Homo sapiens: one gene and its partners. The protein of the gene in region 7 purifies or fractionates together with the protein of the main gene of each other region. This does not show direct contact. Each region holds a gene or a part of one and is shown on either strand. Other genes may lie near its edges.

Region 1 (3,500 bases), about 30 Mb from region 7:
TGCTATGGGGGACCCATAATCTGAAAACCAGTGCCTTAGAAATATCATTGCTAGCTGGAGGCTATAGTGGTCAGCCAGGGTGAGGCTGGTTGAAGTACCAGCTTCTCTCCTGGTAGTCCCCTCCTTTCCATAAATATCCTTTCCAACCCCATGATAGACAGTGAGGAAAGGTAGGGATGCTTTTTCTTTCTCAGAATCTTTCAAGGTCCTCTTGGAGAAAACCATAGGTGATGTGACTGGAGATATGACAACTCTCTGGGAATCAGAGAATCAATATTACAACCCACTCCCCAGAGTGTCTATCTGAAACTCTCTAGGCCTTAGCTGTTGACCTGGGCTTTGTGACAGAAACAGACTCCCTATATCCGTTTTCTCATCCTTCCCTGCAGGCTTGAAGAAATACCAGTCTTCCTTTATTCTTAAGTAGTAATCCCTCTGCTGAGGGATGTCGTACCAAACTTATCCTTATTTTCCACTGCCTTTTTCCTGCCAAATGTTATCTCCCCCATCTTTAAAATCAAAACTAAAAAACTTATTTTTTTTTTTAGAGACAAGGTCTCACTTTGTCACCTAGGGTAAAGGGCAGTGGAGAGATCATAGCTCACTGTAACTTTGAACCGGGCTCAAGCGATCCTCCTGTATCATCTTCTGGAGTAGTTGGGACCACAGGCAGATGCCACCATGTCTAGCTAATTAAAAAAATTTGTTTTGTAGAGATCGGGTCTCACTATGTAAAAACCTTTGTACCACCAAGTTGTTACACACCATGTTATGTAAAAAGCTTTTAGTAAAACAAACTTTAAATGATAAAAGTAACACTTGCTCATTACAGAAAATTTGGAAGTTAAAAAAAGATGTGAAGAAAAATAAAAGCACTCATAATCATAGCACTTAGGGATAACAACTTGGTGCATTAATATTTCTTTTCAGACCTTTCCTATACTTACATAAAACATATACATTTTTCATAATCAGATAATACTGTATCTTGCTATGTCACAAATACTTTCCAAGATATTAATACTTTTAATAGCTGTATAAAACCCGACACACAGCTATAATCTGAATGTAGTAATTCCCTACAACTTGATTTCTTTCCAATTTTTCAGTGTTATAAGTAATGTTTCAATGAACAGTTCTCTACATACATCTTTGATGGTATTTCTGATTATTTCCTTAGAATAAAATCCTGGAAGTGAAGGGTAAAAGGGTATGAACCCCTTTAAGTTTCCATCTATCTATCTCATCTATCTATCTATCTATCTATCTATCTATCTATCTATCTATCTATCTATCTATCCATCTATACTACTTTCCAGAAAGGCTGACTACTTCTCCAGTAACTTCTACTAGTAGTTACTGAGAATTCTGTCTTATTACTCTACAATAACACTGAAGGTCCACTATGTTGGACAAAGCATTCACTTGTTCTCAACAGGTACTATTAATAAAATTCTTATTTCCTCTTTTTCATAGCTCAAATGATTGAATAAATGGCATGTATCTACTACTTCACTTCACCACCCACACTTTATTTTGCTACAATGTTTCCTTCTCCAATCATTTTACTAAAATTACTCTACCAACATTAGTGACCTCTTTCTAGTCATATGAATACATTTTTTTTTTTTTTGAGACGGAGTCTTGCTCTGTTGCCCAGGCTGGAGTGCAGTGCTGTGATCTCAGCTCACTGCAAGCTCTGCCTCCCGGCTTCACGCCATTCTCCTGCCTCAGCCTCCTGAGTAGCTGGGACTACAGGCGCCCACCACCACGCCCGGCTAATTTTTTGTGTTTTTAGTAGAGACAGGGTTTCACCGTGTTAGCAAGGATGGTCTCGATCTCCTGACCTCGTGATCCGCCCACCTCGGCCTCCCAAAATGCTGGGATTACAAGCTTGAGCCACCGTGCCCGGTCATGAATACATTTTTTTAGATTCTCATCATTAGCCCTTCTGACTCTACTCTTCCCATTTTTGTGGCCATTTGATTCGACTGATCTCATCTTTCTACAAGGATTCAATGCCTCCTTACATTGTACCACCAAATTCTCTCACTTCATCTCCAACCTCTATGACCAATCTTCTTTAATGTCTTCTTTCCCAGTTCCTATTATTTACACCATGTCACACCTCCAAGGCTTAGTCCTTGCTTCTATTCTGTGCTACTCTCTGGAAGGACTCCTCCATTCTGTTTTAAAAATCAACTCCAGACTAATTGCTCCCATATCTTTATCTCCATAACTTTACTCTTCCTTTGCCCTCAGGTCTTCAACCTCTCACAACCTATAACTCAGTGCCACCTAAACCTACTCAATAATGCACCATCTTCTCTGCCAAACTAACACAAATCTTTGATGGCGTTTCTGATTATTTTTCCAACTTTCTTATTTCTGACAATGAGGCAATACTTCTGTAGTCCTCAACATTAAAAAACTTGTCTTTAAGTCCTTCCTTACTCAGTATCTCCAAACTCATCCTTTCTTCAAGACACTTCCTAAATATATTCGTTATTTCCATCATCACCTCACACATCAGTTACTGTAATATCTTCATAGGTAGCAGCAATTCAACTGGTATGTAGTTGCTGAGTTAATTTTCCAGAAATGTTTCTTGTGTTACTTCTCCTGCTAAAAGGTTTTTTTGGTCCAAATTCATTTGGTTCAAACGTCTCCAAACACTACACTTTACCTCCTATTGCCTCCTGATCAAAATCCCTAAGGTAATCTTTCCTCTCTCATATCCTTTTTCAGACTCATTACCGCCCCTACATGTGCTCACAACTCATTACCGCCCCTACATGTGCTCACATCACTCTCACACCCCTTCATTTCAATGGAGCCTTCAAGAATCTCAGAATTCTTGAAGCCAATGGTATATTATATATGTTTGTTTGTTCATTGCAATAAATCAGCCCTAGGAGTGGGGCAGTCCATTCATTTTAGAGCCTTCACAGTATACACACAGGGCATCCATTGTGTACTCAATAAATACTTGGCAAGACCTGGAAAGGAGCAATAAGTAAAGCCAAATGTGGGGGTAGTTAAAATGCGTACGTTCTCATTTAGGTTTGGTTAGCAAGAACAAACAAAAAGAATAAGGTAGCAGAATGTGGTAGAAATAAAATCAGAATGGGAGCCAGGGGATACTGGCTATGTCCCAGGTCTGTACCTGTGTGGTCCTTGGCAAGCTGATTCCCTTCTTGGCCCTTAAGTTTCCTCATCTGTAAAAATTAGAGGACTAAATTACCTGACTTCTAAGATACCTCTCTACTCTAATGCTCTGAGATGTGGGTTAAACTAAAAGGAAGGCAGCCCATAGTCCATTACATTGGTAACAATGACGGTAACAAATTCATTTTCAAATCTGACCAGTCAACAGAGTTTAGGGGAGCAAAACTTTCTTTCAATAAGAAACATTCTTGTAAGGTCATTCCATTCCTTTGAACTAATAATCATTCTGTGGAAAGATACAATATCCTAAAAGTTATATCTATTTTATTCTT
Region 2 (2,205 bases), on a different chromosome or scaffold from region 7:
TAGTCCCAATTTCCTTCATGGGCCTTCACTGAGTTACTTGTAGCATTCTAATGGAAGAAGAGAGTTTAAGAGATTTAAGAGACAGCAGTTTGGATTTTGCTGGAAGTAAGGATTTTGCTGCTTGAGCACTTGTCTTTTTGGAGTAATTCCATTTTCTTCCATCAAGTTACATAAACTGTATCTGGAAAAAAAAAGTGGGTATGTTAATTCATTGTATTGTAGGATGTCTTCTCATAAATAAAAATGCTTTGTGGTCTTTACCATTTAACTGGCCCAGAAGTGTTCACAACATGCTTATCACAAACCCTGTTTATAAAACAAAGTCAGTATTATCAACTTATGTGCCAGAAAGCTCAATATTTGACACATATAGGGACTTCCAAATAATGTTTTTTGTTGTTGTTTTTGAGACAGAGTCTTGCTCTGCTGTCTAGGCTGGATTGCAGTGGCATGATCAAAGCTCAATGGCTGGGCACCATAGCTCACACCTGTAATCCCAGCACTCTGGGAGGCTGAGGTGGGCAGATCACCTGAGGTGAGTTCGAGAGTTCGAGACTGGCCTGGCCAATATGGTGAAACCCCGTCTCTACTAAAAATACAAAAATTAGCCAGGCGTGGTGGCGGGCGCCTGTAATCCTAGCTACTCGGGAGGCTGAGGCAGGAGAATGGCTTGAACCCAGGAGGTGGAGGTTGCAGTGAGCTGAGATCGTGCCACTGCACTCCAGCCTGGGAGACAAGAGCGAAACTCCATCTCAAAAAAAAAAAAAAAAAAAAAAAGCTCATTGGAACTCCTGGGCTCAAGCAACCCTCCTGCCTCAGCCTCCTGAATAGCTAGGACTGCAGACAGTCGCCACCACACCTGGGTAATTTTTGGGTGGGGGTAGAGACTAGGGTCTCACCGTATTGCCCAGGCTGATCTTGAACTACTAGCCCCAAGTGATCCTCCCGCATCAGCCTCCCAGGGTGCTGGGATTACAGGCATAAGCAACCACATCCAGGCCAAATACTTAACTGCTAAAAATAGAGGAATAGCATGTGGAGGAGGAAAAGAAAGAAGATCAATGACCTATTTTTTCATGACAAGTTCAGAAAAATCTCTCCATAAGCACAAATACCACAAGCAAAATCTCATTTGGGAAGCAAAATTTGAAATATTATTTCCAAATGATATACAATTAGAGACAATAAAGGGAACAGTAATATTATACTAAGTCTTTTTATTAACATAAATAAGAACCTGAAAGAGCCATAAAAATATTTTTCAATAGGGTACTACTGTTCATTCAAAGATATTTCACTCACAATTTCCCTTAAACTGCCCATCCAAAGATTACTGAAGTAGATGTGCTAATAAACTTGCCAAATCAGAAGACTATAAACTCCCAAAGATCTAGAAGGTATATCTAAACTGGGGGCTAGAGCATCAAGAAGAACAAATTACACTGTCTTCCAGCAAACAGAGGCAGTGTGGATCATATGCAGAATCCTTCTAATCGAAAGGGCTTAAGTATTCACTTGCCCTTAATTAAAAAGCAAACTTTATCCGATCTCATCCATTTACTGTGAGCAGTGGATGAGATTACTTTAAATAATTATGTTACAGATATTTTCCAAAAGTTGTTTTTCCTTATGTCCTATCTTTTCATTCTGCACCTAAAGAATAGAGGAAGAGGAGGAGGAGGAGAGGGAGCCTAGAGTCCTTTAAAGAAATGAAAGAGAAGCGTGAATTGTGTTTAATGTTTGGTAATTGTTTTTAAGTATTTAAGTCCCCATCTCCCAAAACAAGTAGCAATACCTAAAGTGATTTATAAGAAATCCTCCAAAGAGAGCTCTGCAAAGGGGTCCTTTCCTGAAGCTCTGTGAGGACTGTGACTGGAGGGGCTGGATGCTGCCGACAGCTGGGGGAAAAGAAGACAGAGAGAGGGAAAGAAAAAAAGATCTCAGAATGACAGAACATGAAAGCAGAAAATGTATGAAAGAAGAAGTGGTTTTGGTTTTGTCATCTTTAATAAATATAAGGGCAGTCTTTGTAGAAAATGGATTGTTAAGACAAAAGTTTCAGTCATATGTCAAGTTAAAAGGTATGCAATGGCATGTGTTTTTCAGAAAACAAACTCGTGCTTCTGAAGTTTCAAAGGAATAATGTCTTTTACCCAAAAGGTCGATATAAGCTGACCCATGGTTAAGAATTTTAATGTGTGTATG
Region 3 (3,469 bases), on a different chromosome or scaffold from region 7:
ACAGCACCAGCCACCCCACCTCTGCTCCGTGCACCGTCAGGGCCCTTAGCATGTACATGTACATGTGCATGCCCACATGTGGGGGCACCTCCCTTTTCCCCAGCACCCCGTTTCTTAACATTTCACCCTGTTACCACTTCACAGAGCAGGGACAGAGACTCCAGGTCCCACGGCGGGCAAGCGCTGCAGCTGAGCTTTGTGCCCAGGCAGGCGGCCGGCTCTGTGGGCTTAAGGCCCTACTCATGGCTTCTTTGGGCCTCTGGGGTGACAATGCAGATGGGCGGCAATCAGCCCACAGCCACAACCCATCAGCCCTCAGACCAACCCAAGAGCTTGACGTCTCCCTACCCAGCCACCCACGGTCCTCACCGCGAGGAGAGGCCATAGGGGGGCGGCCCTGGAGGTCTTGTGCTGGCCCCTGGCATGGCTCACCGCCTGGCCCTGCTCAGCAGGGGGTCGAGGGAGTCCAGCCCCTAGTATCTGGCCAGCTAGTCGGAGGGTGAGTAGTTGGCAATGTTTATTGGGAAACAGCAAACTCTGCTGGGCACCCAGGCCAGCCGGGAGAGCACGGCCCTGGAAGCGGGGCCTGGAGAGGAATCCAGGGCCGTATGGCTGGTCAGGCAGCCAGGGAAGGCCTGGCAGGTGCACGGACCTGAGGCTGCCCAGATAGGAGGAGCCGGGGGTGGTAGAGGCCAGCTGAACGGTGGAGGCTGGCACTGTCCATGGCACAGGAGGTGGCCCTGGTGCTCAGGCCTCCAGGCTGGGGTCATCAGGCGGCAAGTACATGGGCTCGATGTGGGCCCACCCACGGGCCTGCTCATCGGCCCAGGCGAGCAGCTCTGCGGCGCGGTGCAGGAAGATCAGGAGCAGGGTGTGCACGTCGCCCTCGGCTGAGTGGGCTGCGCTTGGCTCTGCCCGGAAGTAGCGGTGGAAGAGGCTGCCGAGGCTGTAACCCTGGCGGCCCCGGGCCCGGGTGCCGTGGCTGTGGGCGCGGTCCAGGCCCCGCAGGGCCGGCAGCGTGTCCAGGCAGACAGTGTCCCGGGGCAGGCGGGCACCCAGGCGCCGCAGCTCGGCACACAGCAGGGGGAAATCATAATCAAAGCCATTGTGGGCCACAAGGCAGATGGGCCCTGCCTGGCGGCTCAGGAAGGCCTGCAGCGTCCGCACCACGGCGCCATCAAAGCCAGCCTTCCGGCATCGCGCCAGGCCCTCACTGCTCAGGCCGGTGATCTCGCTGGCCTTGGCAGTGAAGGGGCGCTCCGGGCACATGCACAGCGTGAGCTTGTCCAGGACCCGGGGCAATACTAGGGCACCAGACTCGTCGTGCTCCGGGTTCTCCAGGGAGGAGCGGTGGACAGCAAAGAGGGACAGCTCGGCAATCTCGGGCTCCACACTGGGGAGCCCAGTGGCTTCCAGGTCCAGGAAGACAAAGGTCTCGGCCCGGGGTGCCTCGGACATGGTGATGTTCCCACGGGGATAGCAAGTCCTCAAACTGTCCGAGCGAGAGGCACAAACCCTGAGGACTGGAGAGAGGGGTTCGCCCGGGCCCTGCTGTGTACCATCCTCCCCCTAGCCAAAGCTCTGACCCTTCTGGGGCTCACTTCCTGCCACCCCCGACCACAGCACCTGTGACCTTTGGCTCTGGGAGCGTCAGCCCCACTCCTGTCACCTACTGAACAGAAAAGGCAGGCCTCAGAGCGCTCTACTGCCTGCCTCCAGCCACAGTCCCCAGCAGGGATTGGGAGAGGCAGAGGCAGCTCAGGGACCGCACCTTGGCGGGGTCCAGCCCCTTCACCGGAATGCCTTGGCTGGGAACCTGGGGCATAGCACACTGGGTCTCCAGCCCTGGAACCAGCTGCCGGGAAGCAGGCAAGCAGCCACCCGAAAGAGCCCATGCAGTGCACCCAGCTCCCGCTGGGCTCGACCTCCCCACCCTTGTCCCTGGCACACAGGTGCTGGTCCCGAGCTGGCCTCTGCCTGCTTGCCCCCAGGCTCCCGGGGAGACTGTCCTTGCCAACCCCACCACACCAGCTTACCTGGGGCGGGCACTGACCGGCTTCCTGGGCTTCTGGGCACCTGTCGCCACACAGGCTGCTCTAGGCGGCCTTTAATCAGCGGCCGCAGCCCGCCCCCAGCTGCCTGTTGGCCAACAATGAGGCCTGGGGCCTCAGGACCTGCGCAGCCGGCTCGCTCGCCACCCCCTCGCTAGCTCACAGCCACTGAGACACACGCCCCGTGTTTACAAATTAGGAAGCAGGCCCCGAGCTCTTCACAGGCACGGGGAGGAAGCCAGAGTGGTGCGGAAGGCAGTAACCTCCACCTAGCCAGGCTGTGGCTGCCAGGCCTGGCAGGCCTGGGGTCAATGCCTCCCCCATGCTGGGGCCAATGCCTCCCCCATGCTGGGGCCAGTTACACAAAGGCAACAGGTCCTCTTTGCCAGGCCTCAGTCTCCCCGTCACTGGAGATCAGGTGCCGCTCGTGGGGATGAAGCGAGCTCTGGAGTGTGACCAAGGTGCCCACACATGCCGTGCTCAGCCTCCAAAGGGGAAGGGGTGCTCCCCCAAAACCTAGGGATGGGGCAGCCTCGGGAGATGCTATCTGCTTTAAGGACGTCGCTTCATCATGTCTACCGTGCACCTAACAGTGGCTGCTGGGGAAGGAAGGGAGGTGGGCCTGGCCCGGGAGCTGTGCAGGCCGCAGCTGAGCTAATGCTTCCTCCACCACAGATAAGCAACGTTAGGGGGTGGGCCAGGAGCGCCGGGACTACAGGAGGAGTGAAGCCCAGCCCCTCGGACCCCAGGCTCAGGGACCTGCCCTGTCTATCCCGCTCCAGGCAAAGGGCACCAGGTCCTTCCCGGTCCTGCGAGCAGTGGCGCCCTGAAGACCTCATTCTGGAGCAAGAGACAACAGCCCTTGATGGTGGGTGCACTGCAGGGCCAGCCCCATGCTGGGGGCACAGAGAGGTGACCAAGAGGAGTCCCTTGGCCTATAAATCAGGTGGTGCACCTGCACCATGGTGACCACAGGCCTGCCCGGCCTCCCACCTCTCACAGTGGTGGCTGGGGGATGCCTCAGGCGACTGGGATGGAGGGGGGTCTGGCACCTGGCTCCTCCTGGCCTCCTTGCCTTGTGTGCCCACAGGGACCTTGGGGAAGCAAAGGAGATGGTGCCAGGAGGGAGCAGGGTGGGGCGGGCAGCAGCAGGTACAATGGCCCCAAGGAGGCAGAGGCCCTACCAGTCACGCCTGTTCCGGTACTCACAGGGAGGGAGGCAGCTGTGACAGGCACACTGCTCAGGGAGATACTGGGTCACCCTGGGAAGCCCAGACAGCATCTTCCTGGACAACCAGTCAGGCTGAATTCCCCAGCCCAGAGCTGAGCGCCCAGCCAGGGAGGAGCAGGAAACTGGTACCCCGCGGGGGATCCAGGGGCACTCAAGGAGGGCGGCTGAGGGGTGCGTCTCGCACAGG
Region 4 (3,500 bases), on a different chromosome or scaffold from region 7:
ACGGTTGTTTTCTCTCCCGTGCTGCCCACACCTCCAGGCCTGGAGATGGGGTAGACATCTTTCATGCTCATCATTGCTGCCTCCGAACCGTTCTCCCTCATGCTGCTCTAAGCCTCTCCAGCTTTGAAGAGGATACCCTCAGACTGTACAAACCCCGACACCGTTCCCTCCTTGTGGTGGCCACCCACAGCCGCCTGCTCCCCTTCCCAGTGACTCCACATCATTTCTCAGTGATTTCAGCTCCTTTCTGGCATTATTATTGGTGAATTCAGCGTTCATGTAGATGACCCTACCAATGCCCTCGCCTCTCTCATCCTTGGCCTCCTCTCACCCAATGATGTTGCCCTCCACTCCCCTGTCATCACCAGTAAGCACGTCCTCTCCTTCTTCTCAGTTGCAGGCATTCTACTCTGAGCACTAGCTCCTCTCTGTCCAGCTCATGCCCTCTAGTGCCTCAGCTGTCCCGATTCCTTAACCCCACCCAGACATCCAGCCATGCCCACCATGGCTCAGCCTGTTCGTGCCTCACTGCCTTTAGTTCCCTGGTCTGCTTGTTCGCTTGCATAGTCTTCACCCCTTCCCCTTTCTCTTCTGGTTGTATGTATCCATAAAGTTTCTCCAGAGAAACACCAGCAGGGGGATGTGTGGAGAAGGGCAAGGAGAGAGATGGGTGGGTGAGACGGAGAAAGAGAGGTTGAGATTTAATTCACAGAATTGGTTTACATGATTGTGGGGGCTGACTAGGCAAGTCTGAAATTTGTAGGGCAGACCAGAAACTCAGGCAGGAATTGATGCTGTGGTCCCACGTTAGAATTTCTTCTTACAGAAACCTCAGTTTCACTTTTAAGGTCTTTGAACTGAGTATATACTGCCTGTCCAGAGTAGCAAGGGTAATCTCCTTACTTAAAGTCAGCTGGTTGTAGATGTCAACCACAGCTACAAAATACCTCTACAGCAACACCTACACTGTTTAATGGAGTCACCGGGGACTAGAGCCTGGCCCAGGTGGCAAATAAATGTGGCCACCACAGTGTACTTCACATTGTAACCCCCACCCTGGTTAAATCTTGCCTTGTGCATGGCCATGGCCCTCAAGCAGACCCTTGGTACCACCAAGCACCATCTCCACAAACCTGCCCACATCCACGTCTCTACTCAGCCTCCCCTGCTGTTCCCGAGGACGCCTCATCCCCACCAAAGTGCCCATCCTGGTGCCAGCTGGAAGCCACCTCCTCTTCCCTACCCAGTCACTGCCACCAGGGACCTTGAGGCAACCATATCTGGTGGTTGAATCTCAGTCCTCCTCTGACTTGGCCCTGTAGCAGCATCTGATGCTTTCTTTGCTTGCCTTCTGAGATACCACCTCACTCATTTCTCCTCCTGCCTCACTGATTGTCTCCTGATCACTATCATTTCTAAACTTTGCAGACTCCAGAACTTATTCTCTTTTCTTCTCCAAGTTTAGACAGTGTCACAGTGACTCCATCCCATCTCATGGATTAATTACTGTCTAGAAGCTGATGTGCTCCCTGCTTGTTATCTCCAACCCCTAGCTCTCTCAGGCACGTGTGTGTGTGTGTGTGTGTGTGTGAGCGTATGTGTGTGTATGCCTGCTGGACATCCCTGTTTGGATACCTCATGGACACTTCAAGCTTGCTACATCCAAAATTAAGCTCCTGGTTCCCTGACGCAAGCCCCTCCCCCACCACAGCAAACCTATTTCTGCTAAGTCTTCTCTATCTCCATAAATGGCCTACTCTGCTTTTCCAGTTCCATCAACCAAAAACCTTAGATTCATCCCTGCCCGATTCCTTTCTCTCTCATGCCCTTCATCCCATCCATCAGGAAATCTTGTTGGCTCCACTCAGAATAGATCCCCAATCCAACAACTTCTCACCCCTTCCATTGCTGCCACCCTGGTCCAAGCCACCATCACTGTCTCACCTAGATGTTAGAGGGACTCTTAATGGATAAATCAGATCACACCGCCCTCTGTACAGAAGCCTCCAGTGGCGTCCAGTCCCATGTCAAGCAAACAGAGGCCTCTGTAATCACCCATGAGGCCCTGCACGGCACGTCCCCACTACCTGTCTGGCCCACTTCCTCCCACACCCGCCTCATGGCTCTGCCCCAGGCACACTGGCCACCAACCAAGTTTCTGCCTCAGGACCTTTGCACTTGGTGTCCTTTCTGTCAGGAATGCTCTTCCTGAACCACAGAACTTGCTCCCTAGCTTCCTGTAAATCTCCAGCCACCCTGTGCTAAGGAACAGGCCCCCGCTGGTCTCCCTTACTCTGCTCTAGTTTCTGCATAACACCTGCCAGTACGGACGTCCTCTAGATTTACTTGTTTGTTTGCTTATTTGTCCTGATTGAAACATGATTGACCATGAGCGGATACAGAGCAGAGGAAATCTCTGAAATTTGTCCTCTCTACCATAGAATGTAAACTCCACAAAAGCAGGAATTTTGTTTTTCGATCACTGCTTTGTCCCCTCAAAGGAGACGAGAATCCTTAGCAAGCTTTCACTTCTCTCCAAAAGGCTCCCCCGCTGCCATGCTGTTGTTGCTAGTATGTTATTTCAGCTTTCCTTGAGTACAGATTTCAAGGGAACCCTCCAGCATGCCATGTTGTTCTCCAGCCACACTCAACTGCTCAGCCGCAAGCGTGGAGAAGGGGCGAGTTGCATTTAACCAGGGTTGGAGTTTACTAGACAAATTTAATAAAGGGAGAGGGGAACAAGGCAAAGGTGGTGCTGGTGGATCATGAAATCTAAGCTAAGTCCAAGGTCGATGTGATGTGGGTGAAAGACATGGCAGGAGAGGACCTTTTTTATTTTATTTTATTTTATTTTATTTTTATTTTTATTTTTTTAGACATAGTCTTGCTCTGTTGCCCAGACTGTGGCACAATCTAAGCTCACTGCAGCCTCCGCCTCCCAGGTTCAAGCGATGCTCCTGCCTCAGCCTCCCTAATAGCTGGGATTATAGGTGCCCACCGCCACACCCGGCTAATTTTTGTATTTTTAGTAGAGATAGGGTTTCACCATGTTGGCCAGGCTGGTCTTGAACTCCTTGTATCAGGTGATCCGCCCGCCTCTGCCTCCCAAAGTGCTGGGATTACAGGTGTGAGCCACTGCGCCCAGCCGAGAAGGACTTTTAAAATGTACTTTCACCTGGGTGTGGTGGTATGCACTTGTAGTCCCCCAGCTATTTGGAAGGCCAAGGTGGGAGGATCACTTGAGGCCAGGAGTTCAAGACTAACCTGGACTACATAACAAGACCCCCCCCATTTCTTTTTTTTTAAAAATGTGTTTTTATAGTCAGTAGAGAGAGAGAGAGAGAGAGGAGAGAGACAGATATACATACATATAGATAAAGTTTATGTATATATAGTTATATAGTTTTATACACACAATATGTATTACATAACACTTTTTTTTTTTTTTTTGAGACGGAGTCTTGCGCTGTCGCCCAGGCTGTAGTGCAGTGGCGTGATCT
Region 5 (2,492 bases), on a different chromosome or scaffold from region 7:
AAGAGCTGCAATAAAATAGCTTTTCTTAAAAAAATCATTTTTTACCTTCTTTCTCCTGCAACAAGTAGATTACAAGACCTCTGAATGCAGGGCCTTTGCAGGCTGAGCCTGCTCTGATGGGCACACAGCCCAAGAGGGTGGAAGGCACCATCTTTCAGCTCCTACTCCTCTGAGCAGGCCTCATTTGGCAAAGTATGCGAGAGTGTCCTGCTGTCCTCTGGAACCCCACACCTACCCAACCTCAGTCCTTGTGGCGCTGCTGGAGGGGTGACATTACAGACACCCCAGATTCTCCCATGAGATACACCAGACCTCCCTTCCTGGAAAGCAGCCTTGTAAGTGGGGAGGCTGGCCCAGCCCCAGTTACTCCTGCACCCCTGGAGACCACTGGTAGGAAGCCTGCAGGACTCCTCTGAGGGCCTGACTGCAGTGATGGCCCCCTTGCCCTGGCACCACACATTTCAGGAATTATGAGCAGCTCACCAAAAAGCACATGTTGTCCTTGCCTATGAGTAAGAAACACAGGAGAGTCCTTTTCACCACCTTATGAGCTGCAACAAAATAGCTTACCTAGCTTTTTGCAGTTTGTGGTTATGCTTTAAGACACTCACACACACACACATGCACGCGCACATGCATGCACACACTTACATTATACACATATATATACCATTTCTCAGAGGAAGAAATATTGACATCACATATAAGCCCCTTTAACTCAAGAAAGCCCCCACCGCCCCAACCTCCCTAACCCCCATTGCCTGCCAGTTTCCCCAAGGAAAAAAAAAATCTAAAAATCTTTCCACTATCCACAGTTTTTAGGTTTCTTCTCAGTTTCTTGTGAACTTTCCCAAATACTGCATAGGATGGACAGAAAACCCCATCCAGCGAGGCCTGAGGGCTTCTCAGCTGGGTCATATCTTCCTGGAAAAGGAGAAAGTCCTCCAGTTAGTGTTTACAGTGAGATGTTTCCACACCACAAGCCCAGCCTGTACTGCCACCCTCTTCTCACATCGGCCCTCAAGTGTGCCCTGGCCTGAGACTGGATTCAAGGCTGCCCTAGACACATTTATAGATTGCCCTGTGGATTCAGAAGCTTGTCAGCTTTGTCTGCCACCCTGCCACAGTGTCCCCTGCCCACCGTCTTCCTCACTAAGAAAGAAGGTGGTGTTCATTAAGGATTTGCCAAACCGAATCTCTTTCCCCTTTTCTGCCTTCAAGTTGTTGCAGCTTGTTTACTAGGAGAGGATATCTGAAGTCTTATTTAACCTTCATCCAGACCAAAGTTACAGTCCTCTCTCCCCACCAGGGATTGGGGTGGGGGGTGCTGGCAGACAGCCTGGTTAAGAGGTCCCCCTTAGCTCAGGAGACCCTGTCTTGATCCCAGGCTATTTGCAGATGGCTCCATGCTGGGCTGCCCCTGAGGCCCCTCTCTAGGGGTGATGACATCTGGCTGGAGTATCTCTATTTGTGATTCTCAGTTTACCCGCATCAGAAACACTTTAGACGCTTGTTTAAAAATAGACTTTCCTGGATCCCACTCCAGGGCTATTGAGTCAGAATAGCTGGGGCTGGGCCAAGTGTGTGCATTTTAGCAAGCAACCCATATAATTCCAATGAACACTGAGGTTGGCAAGCCTTCATCATAGGATTGGTTCTGAGTTTTGGGGGCCTAGAATCATCAGCTGGAAATAAACTTGTCCACACTGGGCATGTGCAGAGAGTGGAAAGTGAATTATAAAAGGATAAAAAAGTGAGCTGTGTATGGCCAAGCCCAGAATGACATATTCTAGAACTCCAGTTATCCATATTGTAGAACTCACTGTAGTCCATGTGAAGGGCACCACCTGTGTTGTTCAGTGTACAACCCACACATTTGTACCTAGCAGTCCTGCCCAGACCCTCTGACCCCTCTGAAACTCCCAGGACATTATACACCCCTAACGTCCTGAGGGTGGGACAAACTACGCCCCCAGCCAAGCAGTCTACACAACTGCTTGTGTTGTCCAGAGCCAGGCAAAAGGATGCTTCTGTGTCCCTGGGAGCACAGGCCTAGCCCTTGTCTCTGAGACTGGCTGAGGCTGTTGCAGTGGTCCCAGAGGCATCCCTGAGGGTGGGGTGATTCTTACCTGCAAGCCTAACTTGCTTGGACAGTCTCTTCTTAGAATCGGGAGGTGAAGTTCCTGAGGCTGTTGGCCCCAGCTAAGGTTCCCAGCATGTTCCTATCGAAACCTTGCTGCAAAGGGAGAAACAGCAACCAAATGACACAAAACTGTGTGGGGCTTGCTGTGGGGTCAGACACTGTCCACTGCCCTCCCAGAGCAACCTCGGCTCACACAGCCTCTCTCTTATCACTAAGTACATGTGTCAGGGCGAAAACTGGCCTCAGTAACTGTGTAACAAAACATAATAACTCTCCATGAGTCGGTGCAATGTGTTTGAACTTCCACTGACACATGTGAATTTCCTACTTGCATTTGCAGAAACCTGAG
Region 6 (3,500 bases), on a different chromosome or scaffold from region 7:
TGGGGTCCAAGTTAAGTTGTCCTGCCTGAAGGCTCCTCCCCACAGAGCAGTCTGCCATGGGGCTTCCTGACTTGAGAATGGAGCCTGGCTGCAGGGTCCGTCCAGCTCACCCTCCCACCAGAGCCAGCTTACAGACCAGCAGGCCTTTGGCCCACACCAGCCCCCTGACATGTTGTATTGGGCCCTCATGGTATTCTCAGTTTGTATTGGTTGTCAATCTTTAAAAATTACAGAATTTCACATAAAAATATAGATTTCTGGGCCAGGCATGGTGGCTCACACCTGTAATCCCAGCACTTTGGGAGGCCAACGCAGGTGGATCACCTGAGGTCAGGAGTTCAAGACCGACCTGGCCAACATAGTGAAACCCCGTCTCTACTAAAAATACAAAAATCAGCCAGGCGTGGTGGTTGCGTGCCTGTAATCCCAGCTACTGGGGAGTCTGAGGCATGAGAATTGCTTGTACCTAGGAGGCGGAGGTTACAGTGAGCTGAGATCACACCACTCCAGCCTGGGTGACAGAGCCAGACTGTGTCTCAAAAAATACATACATACATATATATACATATATACATATATATATATATATATATACACACACATACACATATATACATATATATATATATACATATATACATATATATATACATATATACATATATATATATATATACACACACACACACACACACACATATATATATATGTGTGTGTATATATATATATATATATATATATATATATATATATATATGTATATATAGAGAGAGATTTTTGGGTTCTCTTTAAAAACGGGAAGATTTGGCAACACTAGATCTGTGTTCCCACAGTTGGCTGGCGTTGTGGAACTGTGGCCACCATGGATTGAGCATAAGCACAGGCTCTCCAGTTCTCTGCCATTCCCACCTCTCCCCGGGAACCCCCACGCTTGGCCAAGTTAGTGGCTGTCTTTCATCCAGCAGGCGGGGAGTGATGTGACTAGAAGTGTGGGTTTCACAGTCATGTTGTCTCCATTCAGATCCTGGCTTTGCTCTCCTGAGCAGTGTGGTCTTGGGCAAATTACACACTCTCTTGATGCCTCTATTGTCTCATCTAGACAATGGGGAGGCTGCTACGGCCTATGTCATAGGGCTGATGTGTGGACTAAATTAGATTAAATTAGGGTTGCGCAAAGCAAGCATGCAATACATGTTAGTTATGTCTGTTGTTGTTGCCATTGTTATTAAGGTGCTGCTCCCCTTCACCTATATATGTTACCTGCCTGGCTTCTAAAGGCATTTGAGTTTAGGCTTAGCCCTCTGAGGTCAAGGATCTGATGTCCTCATCTTTTCACTGGCAGCCATCTCAGTTCCTGGCACACAGCAGACATGTCCAGTGCGTGTGTGTTGAGTGACTGAATGAATGAGTTGGAAGCCTGCTAAGAACAGGGGAGGCAATGTAGCAGAGTGGTTTGGGACAAGAGCTTGGTCTGTTCTCAGGTCCCTGCTCTGCCCTGGTTAGTTCCCTAGCTTCTGTGTGCTTCAGTTTCCTCCCCTGTAAAATGGGGATAATCATGGAGTCTGTCATCCACAGTGAGGAAGGACCAAGTGAGAGCCTGGGTGTAAATCACTTGGCTTAGTTCACACATGGTGGTCCTCAGTGAGGTGTTGGTATCATCCCAGACGTCCCTTCCTTCCTTTGGTTGTGAATACTGAGATGTTTTACCTTCCACACTGTCCCTCCTTTCCTGGCTCTCCTCGCTTTCTCCCTGTTCCTCTGCATCCAAAGAGTTTTACTTTGGATCCTATGGCACCGAAGATGTTTCAGTTGCAAGTAATAGATAATACCACTCAACTAGCCTCAGCAATAAAGAGGATATGGCCAGGGGGAAGGGGAAAAGCCCAGAGATAGGGCAGACTCTGGCTCCCTCTTTTCTCTGTGATTTTCTTGGCTCTGCCATCCTGTGAGTAGACTGCAGCCTTAGGCTAGCTCCCCTAATGGTCTCAAGATGGTCATAAAGGCTCAACCTGCGTCACTTGCCTGTACTTGCACCGATCATGGCATCACGCTGATGGGCTCCCACCCTGGGAGTTGGAGCTGTGGTCTCACCCACCAAATTGCAGGGCTGGTAGCCACTGGGTCACCTGACTTTATTTCTGAGTCATGGTAGCTGAGATGTGCAGGAGGTCCTTCAGGGGCTGCTGGTTCCTCCTAGGTTGTAACCCCACTCAGGTTGGTAGAGATGCCTGGAGCAGGCACCCTGGAGTGAGCAATGCAACTTAGATCACATGTCGATGCCAAATCTATGATCAGGGAGTTGGCATTAGTGAGAGTTACCCCTCGGTAAAGCCTGGAGGTCAGATCAGTCTCCTGGGACCAGGTAACAACACTGCCTCCATCAGGGCCAGTGGCCATTCTGTGTGTGTACGTGTGTGTGTGCATGCATGCTCCATAGACTCATACCCCTGACTGGTCCCCGGGGCTCCTAAACAGGTATTGCCCCAGATGTGTGGCCCCTGCGATAACAGAGTGTAGCCTGGGTAACAACTTAGGGATGATGACCTCCCTGTACCCCACACTTCCACAGAGAGAGCCAAGCTGTGTGAGAGGAGGCCACTCTGCAGTTGCTGTGTGTGGATAGGTGGTTTATGTGAGACCCACCCCAAGAACCCCCAGTGCTACACTTAGCCTCTGGGGCCTAGAACTGTAAGAAAGTGGGGGAAAACAGGAATGGAATGGCCTCTGCTTCTCAGTAAGTGCTCTGCGGCTGCGTGTGTGTGTGTGTGTGTGTGTGTGTGTGTGTGTGTGTGTGTGGTTTCCAGACACAGCTGACTTGGTGGGGTTTGGCGGCAGACTACAGGATGTTGGATTGCATCCTGATTGTGTCACCCCTTGGAAGAAGAGGATGAATAAACACATAGCCTTCTCTGCAAGCACAGCACGCCTTAAATTTTGGAGATTTTCAGTCTTGCCTGAAAAGAAAAAAGCTCTAGACCGACTGTGTCCTCCATTTGATCCTCAAGCCGACACAAGGAGGTGGAACAGAGACTAAATAATGAAGCCCTGTGTAAGGTGGGCAGGTGCTCTGATGCCGTAGCAGTTGGAGGCTGTGTTCAGTAACTTATAAATGGTAGCATTGTCCAGCATGTTGGGCATAGTAATGGGAGGGAAGGAAGAACAGAAAACCTGACCTCCCCAACCTGCAGCCGACATCTAGAAGCTTATAGAATAGGTGGAGAATCAAGATGCATTAAAAAAGGATAACCAGTAGTACTAGGAAACAGGATAACTGCCAAGTGAGGGGTCTGGAACGTAAGTGCTTGGGGGCCAGGTGAGAGTGGGTGCCAAGGGAAAAGTAGAGTAGCTGTAGAGCCGAGGGGAGGGGCAGAGTTTGAAAAGAGAGCTCAGAGTTACCAGCTGGGCTGGAACCAGGCCAGTGAGGAAGGCCTGGAACACCATGCTAAGGGCTTTGGACCTGACCCAGCACCTCCTAGGCTTCATTAACTACTTTTATGTGG
Region 7 (3,500 bases):
ATTCCTACCTCAAGTCTGTCTGTTCGCATTAATTTCTGTGCAGCAGCTGCAGCAGCTGCAGGTACAGGGACACCCGGATTCCCTGTAACCAACATTGGTGCAGTCGGCAAGATCTCTGCCGGGACCAGGCTTGGAGAAACAGGTCCCAGATAGGGATTAAAGGCGGCTGCTGATGCATTGGTGGCTAAGCTTGGTGCAACTGAAAACATTGGCTGAAAAATAAAATAAAAGCAAAATTTAACATGCAGGTCTCAGCTCAAAGTTGATATTCTTAATTATACATTTGTCCTCCATCCATCTATCCATTCTTCCTTAGGCCTTCCCTCCTTCCCTTTAATCCTGTGTTCATTTACTATCATTTAGGGTAAGGCTGTTTTATTAAATAAACATTCATCAAATCAATGTTTTTCTAAAATATAATAAGTAAAATATCCATTAAATTATTCACTGGAATTTTGTAGCTGAGGGTCTATAATACTTGTATTTTTTTTTTGAAAAATAGATAAACTATGCAGAAACTTCTTGTGGTCATCTAATCTTCATCTTTGTCCTGATTTAATTCTAGATATTTGTCTAACAAATACATTTTGTAATTGCTATGTCAGATGTACTTGAAAGACCTGTTTACAACTGTTAATAGGTTGCAAGTGTCCTATTATCTGGAATAAATAAAGTAGAACTCCCAGGGGATAAAAGAGTTTCACAGTCAATGTAAGCTGTAAATAAATCTCATGGGGTATGTGAAAGGTGATGATGACACCTTGCCTTTTGAGCACATAAGATAAAGTGTTTGGTATATTTACTTGATGGTGATTTTCCTGGGGGAAATTATAAGTGTTCCACTAGCCTATCACACCTTATTAGGGGAAAACAAGTCTGAAATGTGAAGTTTGAAGTAGAACTGCTACTAAAGAAATGCTACATGATTGGTCAAGGAAATACATATGGCAGCACTGAATAAACTGCTACAAGACAGAATTTCTTCCAGAAATGCTTTCGTGGATATATAAGGATTGTTTCTATTTGTTGATATGCAAACTTGCATATCATAAAATATATTTGTTCTTGAATAGCATTAATTTACCTGAAATCTAACAATTTGTTTTTCTAGTATTTAAAGTATAACAGAACACAATTTCATACCTTATTCATAGTACATTTTTAACTTCCTAATAGAGTCTCAATTCTAATTCTTGAAGTTTAATGCTTCGTTTAATAATGTTTGTTTCTGAAACACAAAAGCTTGTAGGCAAAACGGATGCTGTTCTTTAAGGTAATATTTAACAATTTATTTTCTTTACTCAGCAGTAATGAACAGAATTATAGAAGACTCTTTAGAATAAAAGAGACATTAGAATGTATTAATAACTAATTCTGCCATCTGACAGGAATAAGAAGTTACATGATATCTGAATATATGTAGTATTCAAGAGAGCTCTGTAGTAAAACTTTTTGCAATATAAGGTATATATTACAAATGTAATTCTTATAGTACAAAAGAAATTTGTTAAAAGATAAAATATATCCTCTATTCACTCTGGCCCTGATTCTATATTTAGAAAAATAAAATGAATTTCAAGTATTCCCTTTTTCTTAGGGCAGTGGTTTTCAACTGAGTTATTTTGCCTCTCAGGAGACACCTGGCAATGTCTAAAGACATTTTTGGTTGTCACAGCTGGAGGGGAACTATTATATTCAATGGATGGACGCCAGGGATGCTGCTAAGTGTCCTACAACATACAAGACAGCCCCTCGCAACAAAGAATTATCCAGCCCCAAAAGTCAATACTGTCAATGTTAAGAAGGCCTTTCTTAGGGAACTCTTCTGTTGACCTCAAAAATTGCTTGGGAAACAAACTCTTTGCATTTAGCTATACATTTTTACTAACAAAAATATGAAAAAACAGAATATGTAATACCTAATGTGATTCATTGAGAAGAAACAATACAATATAGATTATACCATTTCAACTTAAAATAATTATGCCTCTGAACATGTTGGTTTGAATGCCATGTTTAGCTGCTCTGCCAGGTCGATGGCTCTTGCCTGATGAAGTGCCCTCAAGTAGCACCTCTAATCCCCAACCCCTCCCAGCACAAAGCAGCAACCTGCAGACAACAAGAACTATCTGTGCATTCCAAATCTTATCAACAAGCTGTCAGAAACTAGGGCCTAGGGCATTCTCTGTCCACCAACACTTCCCTGAGCCGCAGCTGACTTAATGCTGTGCCACTGTCCACTCTCTGCCCAGGTGACAGCAGGACAAGGATTGATTGTATACTGAATATATGTTGAACTTGGATTTCTATTCAAGGATATTCAGGTTAAACTTGTACTTTGTTATACATTGTCAGATTGCATATGAAAATCCAGCCAGACCAGCACCCTAATTTCTATATTAGTCATTTAAGAATTATAAGAAATTTAGCATAGAAGACTAAAAGAGTCTATGTCAGGGGACTAACAGACTAGTTTAGCAAATGGACAACAGAAGCTATTCATTATCATTCCTCTTTGCATTCTTTTACTATGAATAAACATGTATTTCCAGATAGTGCATTTTTAATGTATACTTCAGAAAGTTATTGAGATGTTTATATTATTGCACATAATCTACTATAATTATTTAAAAGCAAAGGTCAAATTTAAAAATGTTTTTGGAAGAAAAAGCAATTTTTATTTTAATAAAATGAGACCAGAGGCTAATAAAACTCAGCTCTCTAAATCTCGTCAAATAAAATACACTGGAAATCTAAAAATGCATATGATGCAGCTGTTGCACATTACAGGCAGAATAATACTTTTATTATGTAAAAATACTGCTTTTAATAACTGGCAATAATATTTCCTGAGTTGTTTCTATAGAGTCATCAAGACAATTGATCTTTCACTTTAATTCAGCAGAGCAAATTCAAATCTGAACAATTTTAGGGCACTGTCCCCAAGTAAAGTCGGTAGGAGCGTTTAAAAATGTGAAACATCAACTATTCAGCAAGCACTATCTCAAATTGTTCCCTCTTTCGATAAGTAGAGCTATTTGCCGAACAGGCAGACAATCAGTAACAATAGCTTTATACTTTGAAACTTGATTCCAAAAGACAGACAGACAGACAGACACACACACACACACACACAAACACACACCATTCCTTCATTTATTTTAAATTTTTGTAAATTTGTTACATCACTTTAGTTATATTGTTTTTTCAAGGAGCGCCATGTTGAAGATAGGTCACTGCTAGCCCCATCAGAGAGTGCCCTAATCAGAGAAATCAGATTAGGAAAGCACTTGACCTGCACTACTGCCAGTTTTCTATTCCAAAAGCTAACCTGCAGGGGGTTCAGCAGAATCTCAAAGACAGATATTAATGCAATGTTGTTATCAAGTGGCATCCTGTTTTCTCTGAAGGATAACATATAACAATGTAATTGGTATATTTGATACTGACTATATTCTTGTGATAATGATTTGTAAGTATCTCTGTTCCTGAAAGACATA

What was found.
Region 1: the proteins of MBNL1 (region 7) and FAM162A purify together in Homo sapiens (affinity purification with mass spectrometry; one large-scale study listed by BioGRID and IntAct). This does not show direct contact.
Region 2: the proteins of MBNL1 (region 7) and PICALM purify together in Homo sapiens (affinity purification with mass spectrometry; one large-scale study listed by BioGRID and IntAct). This does not show direct contact.
Region 3: the proteins of MBNL1 (region 7) and TREX2 purify together in Homo sapiens (affinity purification with mass spectrometry; one large-scale study listed by BioGRID and IntAct). This does not show direct contact.
Region 4: the proteins of MBNL1 (region 7) and NSDHL purify together in Homo sapiens (affinity purification with mass spectrometry; one large-scale study listed by BioGRID and IntAct). This does not show direct contact.
Region 5: the proteins of MBNL1 (region 7) and PKP1 purify together in Homo sapiens (affinity purification with mass spectrometry; one large-scale study listed by BioGRID and IntAct). This does not show direct contact.
Region 6: the proteins of MBNL1 (region 7) and SEPTIN8 purify together in Homo sapiens (affinity purification with mass spectrometry; one large-scale study listed by BioGRID and IntAct). This does not show direct contact.

The regions. Positions count from the first base shown.
Region 1 is NC_000003.12:122,387,182-122,390,681, reverse strand, and holds part of FAM162A (protein FAM162A), read right to left. Parts: intron 1-3,500. UniProt on the Homo sapiens protein: Proposed to be involved in regulation of apoptosis; the exact mechanism may differ between cell types/tissues.
Region 2 is NC_000011.10:85,958,880-85,961,084, forward strand, and holds part of PICALM (phosphatidylinositol-binding clathrin assembly protein), read right to left. Parts: intron 1,899-2,205; coding exon of another isoform or gene 1,806-1,898; exon of another isoform or gene 1,796-1,805; intron 182-1,795; coding exon 167-181; 3' UTR 1-166. UniProt on the Homo sapiens protein: Cytoplasmic adapter protein that plays a critical role in clathrin-mediated endocytosis which is important in processes such as internalization of cell receptors, synaptic transmission or removal of apoptotic cells.
Region 3 is NC_000023.11:153,443,973-153,447,441, forward strand, and holds TREX2 (three prime repair exonuclease 2), read right to left. Parts: upstream 2,085-3,469; 5' UTR 2,037-2,084; intron 1,524-2,036; 5' UTR 1,459-1,523; coding exon 748-1,458; 3' UTR 501-747; downstream 1-500. UniProt on the Homo sapiens protein: Exonuclease with a preference for double-stranded DNA with mismatched 3' termini. May play a role in DNA repair.
Region 4 is NC_000023.11:152,851,563-152,855,062, forward strand, and holds part of NSDHL (sterol-4-alpha-carboxylate 3-dehydrogenase, decarboxylating), read left to right. Parts: intron 1-3,500. UniProt on the Homo sapiens protein: Catalyzes the NAD(P)(+)-dependent oxidative decarboxylation of the C4 methyl groups of 4-alpha-carboxysterols in post-squalene cholesterol biosynthesis. Also plays a role in the regulation of the endocytic trafficking of EGFR.
Region 5 is NC_000001.11:201,328,506-201,330,997, reverse strand, and holds part of PKP1 (plakophilin-1), read right to left. Parts: intron 2,237-2,492; coding exon 2,162-2,236; 3' UTR 2,130-2,161; intron 925-2,129; 3' UTR 1-924. UniProt on the Homo sapiens protein: A component of desmosome cell-cell junctions which are required for positive regulation of cellular adhesion.
Region 6 is NC_000005.10:132,767,240-132,770,739, reverse strand, and holds part of SEPTIN8 (septin-8), read left to right. Parts: intron 1-3,500. UniProt on the Homo sapiens protein: Filament-forming cytoskeletal GTPase. May play a role in platelet secretion. Seems to participate in the process of SNARE complex formation in synaptic vesicles.
Region 7 is NC_000003.12:152,429,429-152,432,928, reverse strand, and holds part of MBNL1 (muscleblind-like protein 1), read right to left. Parts: intron 213-3,500; coding exon 9-212; intron 1-8. UniProt on the Homo sapiens protein: Mediates pre-mRNA alternative splicing regulation. Acts either as activator or repressor of splicing on specific pre-mRNA targets. Inhibits cardiac troponin-T (TNNT2) pre-mRNA exon inclusion but induces insulin receptor (IR) pre-mRNA exon inclusion in muscle.